2 linked regions of the Homo sapiens genome follow. The protein of the gene in region 1 purifies or fractionates together with the protein of each later gene. This does not show direct contact. Each region holds a gene or a part of one and is shown in the gene's direction. Other genes may lie near its edges.

Region 1 (3,251 bases):
GTATGGTATTGGATTTACCAACATGGTGGAAAGGACCACGCCCGGCAGCAAAGATCTCTCCAGGTAAGTACACAGCATTTGCTTTTATGGGTTGGAACCTTGAGTATGCTGGTGCCCCAAATATTCTAGGAACATCATATGTATCTAGTTCAAGCTGAGCTCAACAAATGTACAATATGCTCTTTCATTGAAAGCTGTCTGAATTTAGCATATTATAAATATTGTCATATTTATATTTTTGACTACTTTTTAATTCAATTTTAGTAAAGAATTTCGTGAAGGAGGACGTATTCTAGTACAGAAATTACAGAAATATCAGCCACGAATAGCAGTGTTTAATGGAAAATGTAAGATTTACTTTTAAATTTTTTTTTTCTTTGCTAACATTATGGGCAATGTAAATATGTTTGTATTTCATTTTAGGTATTTATGAAATTTTTAGTAAAGAAGTTTTTGGAGTAAAGGTTAAGAACTTGGAATTTGGGCTTCAGCCCCATAAGATTCCAGACACAGAAACTGTAAGTCCCTAAAATTGAATTTGTAAATCAGCTAAATGTGAATTTTTTTCTAGATAATTTCCTTATTTGTCCTATCCATTGTGATTTATACCATGCAAAACAATTACACTGTATTTTGTTGAATAATACCTATACATCAGCTTTAACTAATAGTTGTAAATTAATTCAAATACTATTAGGGTTTATTAGAAAGAAAAACATTTGTCAGCTAAATGTCTTGATGTTGTTATTCAGTGAAAATATTGAGAGGAACTGGCTCATATACTACATTCAGAATACATTTAATGGCATGTAGTTGTCAAATTCAAATGGTTTAGCCCTCGTACTGTTGTGAAACAAACATGGAAACACAGACATGATCCTGATTAGGAAAACCAGTTGCCCCATTTATATATCTTAGCTCAACTTCATTTTAGAGCCATATAAATAATACAACCCAGACAAGCCTCCAGCCAACCTAACTGGCATTCAATACTGTTGTCTTATACACAAAGTCATCATGAAATAACAGTGTTTTTCAAATTGTCCTCTCTACAGAGCTTCTGCAGGCATTTGGTTCCAATTTTGCTTCTTAGTTTTAGGTTTTATTTACAACTTTTAAAGAACAACACAGTGCACAGATTTACATGTTGTATATACAACATCTTAACTGATGGAGAAGCTAATTTGCTGCCAGGTTTTTGTGGAAACCTAAAAATGTTTCTGCCACCTAAATATATTTAAATTTCTCCTTTAAAATTGTTTTTGTTCATAATTTCTTATAAATATGCAATTGATGAGTTTTATTATAGCATTGGTTTTTGCTTAAATAAAGGCCCACCTTTGTCTGCTTGGTTAAAATGGTACAAATTCACTACCTGTAGTGAATTGTAGAGAAATTCCTGTAGAGTACTGTGTCATTCTCTGTTACATGCCATTTGGAGGCCGGGCGTGGTGGCTCATGCCTATAATCCCAGCACTTTGGGAGGCCGAGGCAGGCGGATCACCTGAGGTTAGGAGTTCGAGACCAGCCTGGCCAACATGGTGAAACCCCATCTCCACTAAAAAATACAAAAATTAGCCAGGCATGGTGGCATGCGCTGTAATCCCAGCTACGTAGGAGGCTGAGGCAGAAGAATCGCTTGAACCCAGGAGGCAGCTCATTAGGCGGAGGCTCATTATTTTTCACTTCCTGACTTGGTAATAAGTCAGTATTACAAATTCAACCTTAAAAGCAACTACTTTTATTGATTTTTACATATATTTATATGTAGTTAAGTATCAAGTTATTAACCCAAATAAAGACAAATATTCTAATCTCAATGAGTGAATTCAATAGAATTATAAGATTTCTGAAATTATAAAATGTTGTGATTCTAGCTCTGCTATGTTATGCCATCATCCAGTGCAAGATGTGCTCAGTTTCCTCGAGCCCAAGACAAAGTTCATTACTACATAAAACTGAAGGACTTAAGAGATCAGTTGAAAGGCATTGAACGAAATATGGACGTTCAAGAGGTGCAATATACATTTGACCTACAGCTTGCCCAAGGTATGTTACTGTCCTCATTCCTTTTATTCATTTTGTGTGTGTATATATACACATATATACTTACATATATATACACATATACATATATACATATACACATATACATATGTGTGCACATATATGCACACGTGTATATATACATGTGTATATATACATATATACACATAAGTATGTATGTCTATATACATATATGTGTGTATACACTTGTGTGCGTATACATATGTGTGTGTCTATATATAGACACATACACACACACACACACACACACACACACACACACACACACACATTACAGAAAGTATCTTATGGATTTAAAAGCAGGAAAAAAGAAAACAATTATATTCGCAGCCAGAGTGCTCTGATAATGAATATTAGTCACTGTTAAAATCTCCTTTTACCAAGGTCTTCCCTCTACTCTGGCACTTCTGCAGATAATTCACCTGCAGAGTGCCAGAGCAGAGGGATGTAAGAAATATTGTACCCTACGTAAAGTTGAATGTAAGCGGTTTTTACAGTTCTTATGTGTTTATTTAGTACATGCTATAAGTTTAAAAGATTAATAGAGATGTATCTCAGTGTATATGAATATTCAAGAAAAAGAATTGTTCATGATTTCTGAATAAAGCTACTTTTAAAATTGTTGTACAAAATCAGATTTAAATCCTTTTTACCTTCCTCACAGAGGATGCAAAGAAGATGGCTGTTAAGGAAGAAAAATATGATCCAGGTTATGAGGCAGCATATGGTGGTGCTTACGGAGAAAATCCATGCAGCAGTGAACCTTGTGGCTTCTCTTCAAATGGGCTAAGTATGGTTCCCTCCACATGTGTATTCCTTTCAAAGACGGTTTGGTCAGGATTGGGGGGAAAATTTTAATAGAAGGAGAGTAAATTATTGAAGAATGGGAATGATAATATGAAATTTTATTTAGTGACTAATAGTGAAAAATTGATGGTTATTTCACGTTGAATTACACAGACTTTTACAGTACATTTTCTTTTTTGTTTGTTTGTTTTTGAGACAGATTCTCGCTGTGTCACCCAGGCTAGAGTGCAGTGGCTCGATCTTGGCTCACTGCAAGCTCCCCCTCCTGGGTTCACACCATTCTCCTGCCTCAGCCTCCCGAGTAGCTGGGACTACAGGCATCCGCCACGATGCCTGGCTAATTTTTTTTGTATTTTTAATAGAGACAGGGTTTCACC
Region 2 (4,541 bases), on another chromosome or scaffold:
GGAAGATTTCATCATTATTTACTTCATTTTATTACATCTGAGAACTCAAATCATTTTTTCTTTGATAGTGTTTGCTGTCTAAATGTATTATTTAACCACTGTTTGTGTATGTATTTACTGCTTTTGTTTAGAAATGTTTATGTGTATTTTAGGACATCCCCTTGAATTTTTACGGAATCAGCCTCAGTTTCAACAGATGAGACAAATTATTCAGCAGAATCCTTCCTTGCTTCCAGCGTTACTACAGCAGATAGGTCGAGAGAATCCTCAATTACTTCAGGTGACTAATCAGTGTCAGTTTCACAAGTGATTTAGAGTGTGTCACAATTTGAAAAAGTCCATGAACGGTCCTTCCCCTCCTCAAATACAACTCTGTATTTGAGAATGTGAATGTTTTCTTCCAAGCTACACTTAGATATTGTAATCTAGATAGGTGTACTAAAAAAACAGTTGGGATATGGAGGTTGGGTTAAATTAAGTTGACCAAATAGTAGTAAGTTTGGGAAACATTTTATATTTCCTTTTTGGAGATTCCCACTACACATTAATATGTTAAAGAATTTGGGAAGCTGTTTAACAGAGAAACTGCCTAACTTTAAATCACTTTTCACAAGCTTATTACTCAGTTCCTTTTTCTTAGGAACTTTTAAGCAACAGGAACAACTTACTCTTAGAAAAAATAGCTGTGGGGCTTCTTTAGTGATCAGATCACCAAGTATTTGAATTTTATACAGCATTTTAATGCCCACTAGTGTGGAAGGTAAAAAATACATGCAAGTATTAAGAATAAGTTCTATTCTTATAGTCCCACAGTAGTTTTTTTTGTTTGTTTTTTGTTTGTTTTGTTTTTTTAAGCACAGGAGGCTCAGAGCACTTAAGAATTTGAATTTCTTCACTGTTTACTTTGCCCAAAAGTACTGAATTTCTTTACTATTGTATAAGAAATCACATCCTTCCAAAGACTGAATAATCCAGAATCACTAAATTACGTTTGCAAAAGTGTAGCCTTTTCTCTTAGTAATATTTAGAATTTCTCTGTTCCTGCAGATACTTAATATCAGTGTATTATTTTTCTCTGTCCTTCATATCACCACAGCAAATTAGCCAACACCAGGAGCATTTTATTCAGATGTTAAATGAACCAGTTCAAGAAGCTGGTGGTCAAGGAGGAGGAGGTGGAGGTGGCAGTGGAGGAATTGCAGAAGCTGGAAGTGGTCATATGAACTACATTCAAGTAACACCTCAGGAAAAAGAAGCTATAGAAAGGGTGAGTTTAAGTAAAACTTTAAAAAAATTAGTTCTTGGCTGGGCTCATGCCTGTAATTCCAGCACTTTGGGAGGCCAAGGCAGGTGGATCACCTGAGGTCAGGAGTTCAAGACCAGCCTGGCCAACGTGGTGAAACCCCATCTCTACTAAAAATACAAAAATTAGCTGGCGTGGTGGCACATACCTGTAATCTCAGCTACTTGGGAGGCTGAGGCAGGAGAATTGCTTGGACCTGGGAGGTGGAGGTTGCTGTGAGCCGAGATTGTGCCACTGCACTCCAGCCTGGGCAACAGAGTGAGACTCTGTCTCAAAAAAAAAAAAAAAAAAAAAAAAAAAATTCCTTAGTCACACTAGCCCCATTTCAAATGCTCAGAAGTCACATATTAATAATAAGGTTTTTCTATAATTTCTTTCAATAGTGTCCTGTAGTTTTCAGTGTAGAAGTTGTGTAATACTTTTGTTAAAATTATTTCGAAGTATTTTTATTCTTTTTGATGCTGTTATAAATGGATTTTTCTCTTAATTTCATTTTCAGACTGTTCATTGCTAACTATATAAAAATACAATTTAATTGTGTATATTGATCTTTTATCATAAAACCTTCTTGAACTGTTATTTATTCATTAAGTAGTTTGTGCATGTGTTCATTAGGATTTTCCATATACAAGGTCATGTCATCTGCACATGGAGACAGTTTTACTTCTTTTCCAATATGGATACCTTTTATTTCTTTGTCTTATTTAACTGCCCTATCTGGAGCCTCCAGTATATTATTAGACTAGCAAGAACCAACAACATCCTTGTCTGGTTCTTGATCTTAAGGGAAAGCATTCAGTCTTTCATCACTAAGTATGATATTATCTATGGGTTTTTTGTGGATGCCCTTTATCAGATTGAAGAAATTCTCTTCTGTTACTAGTTTGTTCATCACGAAAAGGTGTTGGATTTTGTCAAATTTTTTTTCTTTCTTTATTAAGATGATCATGTGATTTTTGTCCTTTAGTATGCTTTATTACATTGATTGATTTTGTATGTTGAACCAACCTTGCATTTCTGAGATAAATTTTACTGGTTACAGCATATGATCTTTTTTATATGTTGCTGGATTTAGCCTGCTTGTATTTTGTTGAGGATTTTTGCATCTGTTCATAAGTCATATTGGTCTGTAGTTTTTTTGTGATGTTTTTGTCTGAATTTGGTGTCTGGGTAATACTGGCCTCTTAGGGTGAGTTGGGAATTATTCTCTCCTGTTGTCTGGAAGTATTTATTAAGAATTGGTGTGGGCTAACACGGTGAAACCCCGTCTCTACTAAAAATACAAAAAAAATTAGCCAGGCGTGATGGTGGGCGCCTGTAGTCCCAGCTACTCGGGAGACTGAGGCAGGAGAATGGCGTGAACCCGGGAGGCGGAGCTTGCAGTGAGCCGAGATTGCGCCACTGCACTCCCGCCTGGGCCACAGAGCGAGACTCTGTCTCAAAAAAAAAAAAAAAAAAGAATTGGTGTGAATTTTTTGAATAGTTGATAGAATTCACCAGTAGTCTGGTCCTGGGCTTTTTTTGGGGGGAAGTTTTGTGATTATTGATTCAGTCTCTTGTTACTTGTCTATTCAACTTTTGTATTTCTTTTTTTTTTTTTTTTTTTTTTTTGAGACAGAGTCTCGCTCTGTTGCCCAGGCTGGATTGCAGTGGCGTGATCTCCGCTCATTGCAAGCTCCACCTCCTGGGTTCACACCATTCTCCTGCCTCAGCCTCCCGAGTAGCTGGGACCACAGGCACCCGCCACCATGCCCGGCTAATTTTGTTTTGTATTTTTTTAGTAGAGACGGGGTTTCAACATGTTAGCCAGGGATGGTCTCGATCTCATGACTTCGTGATCCACCCGCCTCGGCCTCCTAAAGTGCTGGGATTACAGGCGTGAGCCACTGCACCCGGCCAACTTTTCTATTTCTTTTAGAGTCAGTTTTGGTGGTTTTTGACTTGGAATTTGTCTATTTTATCTAAGCTGTCTAATTTGTTGGCGTGCAATTGTACATATTTCCTTATAATCATTTTATTTCCTCTTTTGATAAAGTAATAATGTTCCTGCATTTATTCCTGATTTCAGTCATTTGAGTCCTAAGATATTTTTGTTTTTTCCCTTCAGTTTAGCTAAAGGTTTTAATTTTGTTCATTTTGTGGTGGTTGTTGTTAATGACAAAAATAACTTTGGGTTTTGTTGATTCTCCCTATTGTTTTTCTAGTCTTTTGTTTTGTTTTGTTTTAAGTCTCTCTAATGTTTATTTCCCTCTTGCTTGCTTCTAGTTTGTTCTTCCTTTTTTAGGTTAGGTTTAGTTTAGTTCTTTGTTTAGTTTTAGTTTAAGATTAAATTATTATCTATCTTTGTTAGCATAGATGTTTATAGCTATAATATTCCTTCTGCGTTTATGCTATAGTAGCATCCCATAAGTTTTAGTATGTTGTATTTTTGCTTTCTTTCATCTCAAAATGTTTTTTAATTTCCCATTTGGTTTCTAATTTAATTCATTCGTTATTTAGGATTGTGTTAATTTCCACAAGTTTATGAATTTCCCACATTTTCTCCTTTCGATTTCTAAATTCATTCCATTATAATCAGAGAATATACTTTCAATACTTTTCAACTTATTGAGGTTCGTTTTGTGGCCTAACATGGTATTTCTGAAGAATGTTCTATGTATACTGAAGAAGAATATAGTGTAGTTCTTATTAAGTGGTCTATAAATATCTGATAGATCTAGTTTGTAGTCAAGTCTTCTTCCTTAGCTGTTTTATCTATTATTGAAGGTGGAGCTGTAGTTGTCTCTATTATTGTTAATTGCCAATTTCTACCTTTAATTCTCAGTTTTTATTTTATGTATTTTGTGGCTCTGTTATATATAATTGTTGTGTCTTCCTGAACCCTTTTTATCATAAAATGCCTTTTGTCTATAGTAACAATTTTTATCTTAAATCTGTTTCCTCTGATATAGCCATTCTAGCTCTTTTTTGGTTACCATTTGCATAGTATATACCTTTTTCTATCATTTTACTTTCAACCTACTTGTGTCTTTGAATCTAAATTGTGTGTTTTGTAGAAGCAGGCAGTTGGATTGTACCCTTTACTTCACCTATCCTAGCTTTAATCTGGATAAAACCCAGATAACAAACTGATTTTTTAGTTTCTTCTGCTTTCATAGATGAATAGTTATTCGTGATGAATTGGGATTTTTGCCCAAATTTTAAGGGTTATTTCCAAATATAATCTGACACAGCAGTC

The links.
Region 2: the proteins of TDG (region 1) and RAD23B purify together in Homo sapiens (affinity purification with western blotting; one study listed by BioGRID). This does not show direct contact.

What each region holds. Positions count from the first base shown.
Region 1 is NC_000012.12:103,982,872-103,986,122, forward strand, and holds part of TDG (G/T mismatch-specific thymine DNA glycosylase), read left to right. Parts: coding exon 1-63; intron 64-264; coding exon 265-347; intron 348-423; coding exon 424-518; intron 519-1,877; coding exon 1,878-2,049; intron 2,050-2,731; coding exon 2,732-2,857; intron 2,858-3,251. UniProt on the Homo sapiens protein: DNA glycosylase that plays a key role in active DNA demethylation: specifically recognizes and binds 5-formylcytosine (5fC) and 5-carboxylcytosine (5caC) in the context of CpG sites and mediates their excision through base-excision repair (BER) to install an unmethylated cytosine.
Region 2 is NC_000009.12:107,323,738-107,328,278, forward strand, and holds part of RAD23B (UV excision repair protein RAD23 homolog B), read left to right. Parts: intron 1-152; coding exon 153-280; intron 281-1,096; coding exon 1,097-1,267; intron 1,268-4,541. UniProt on the Homo sapiens protein: Multiubiquitin chain receptor involved in modulation of proteasomal degradation. Binds to polyubiquitin chains.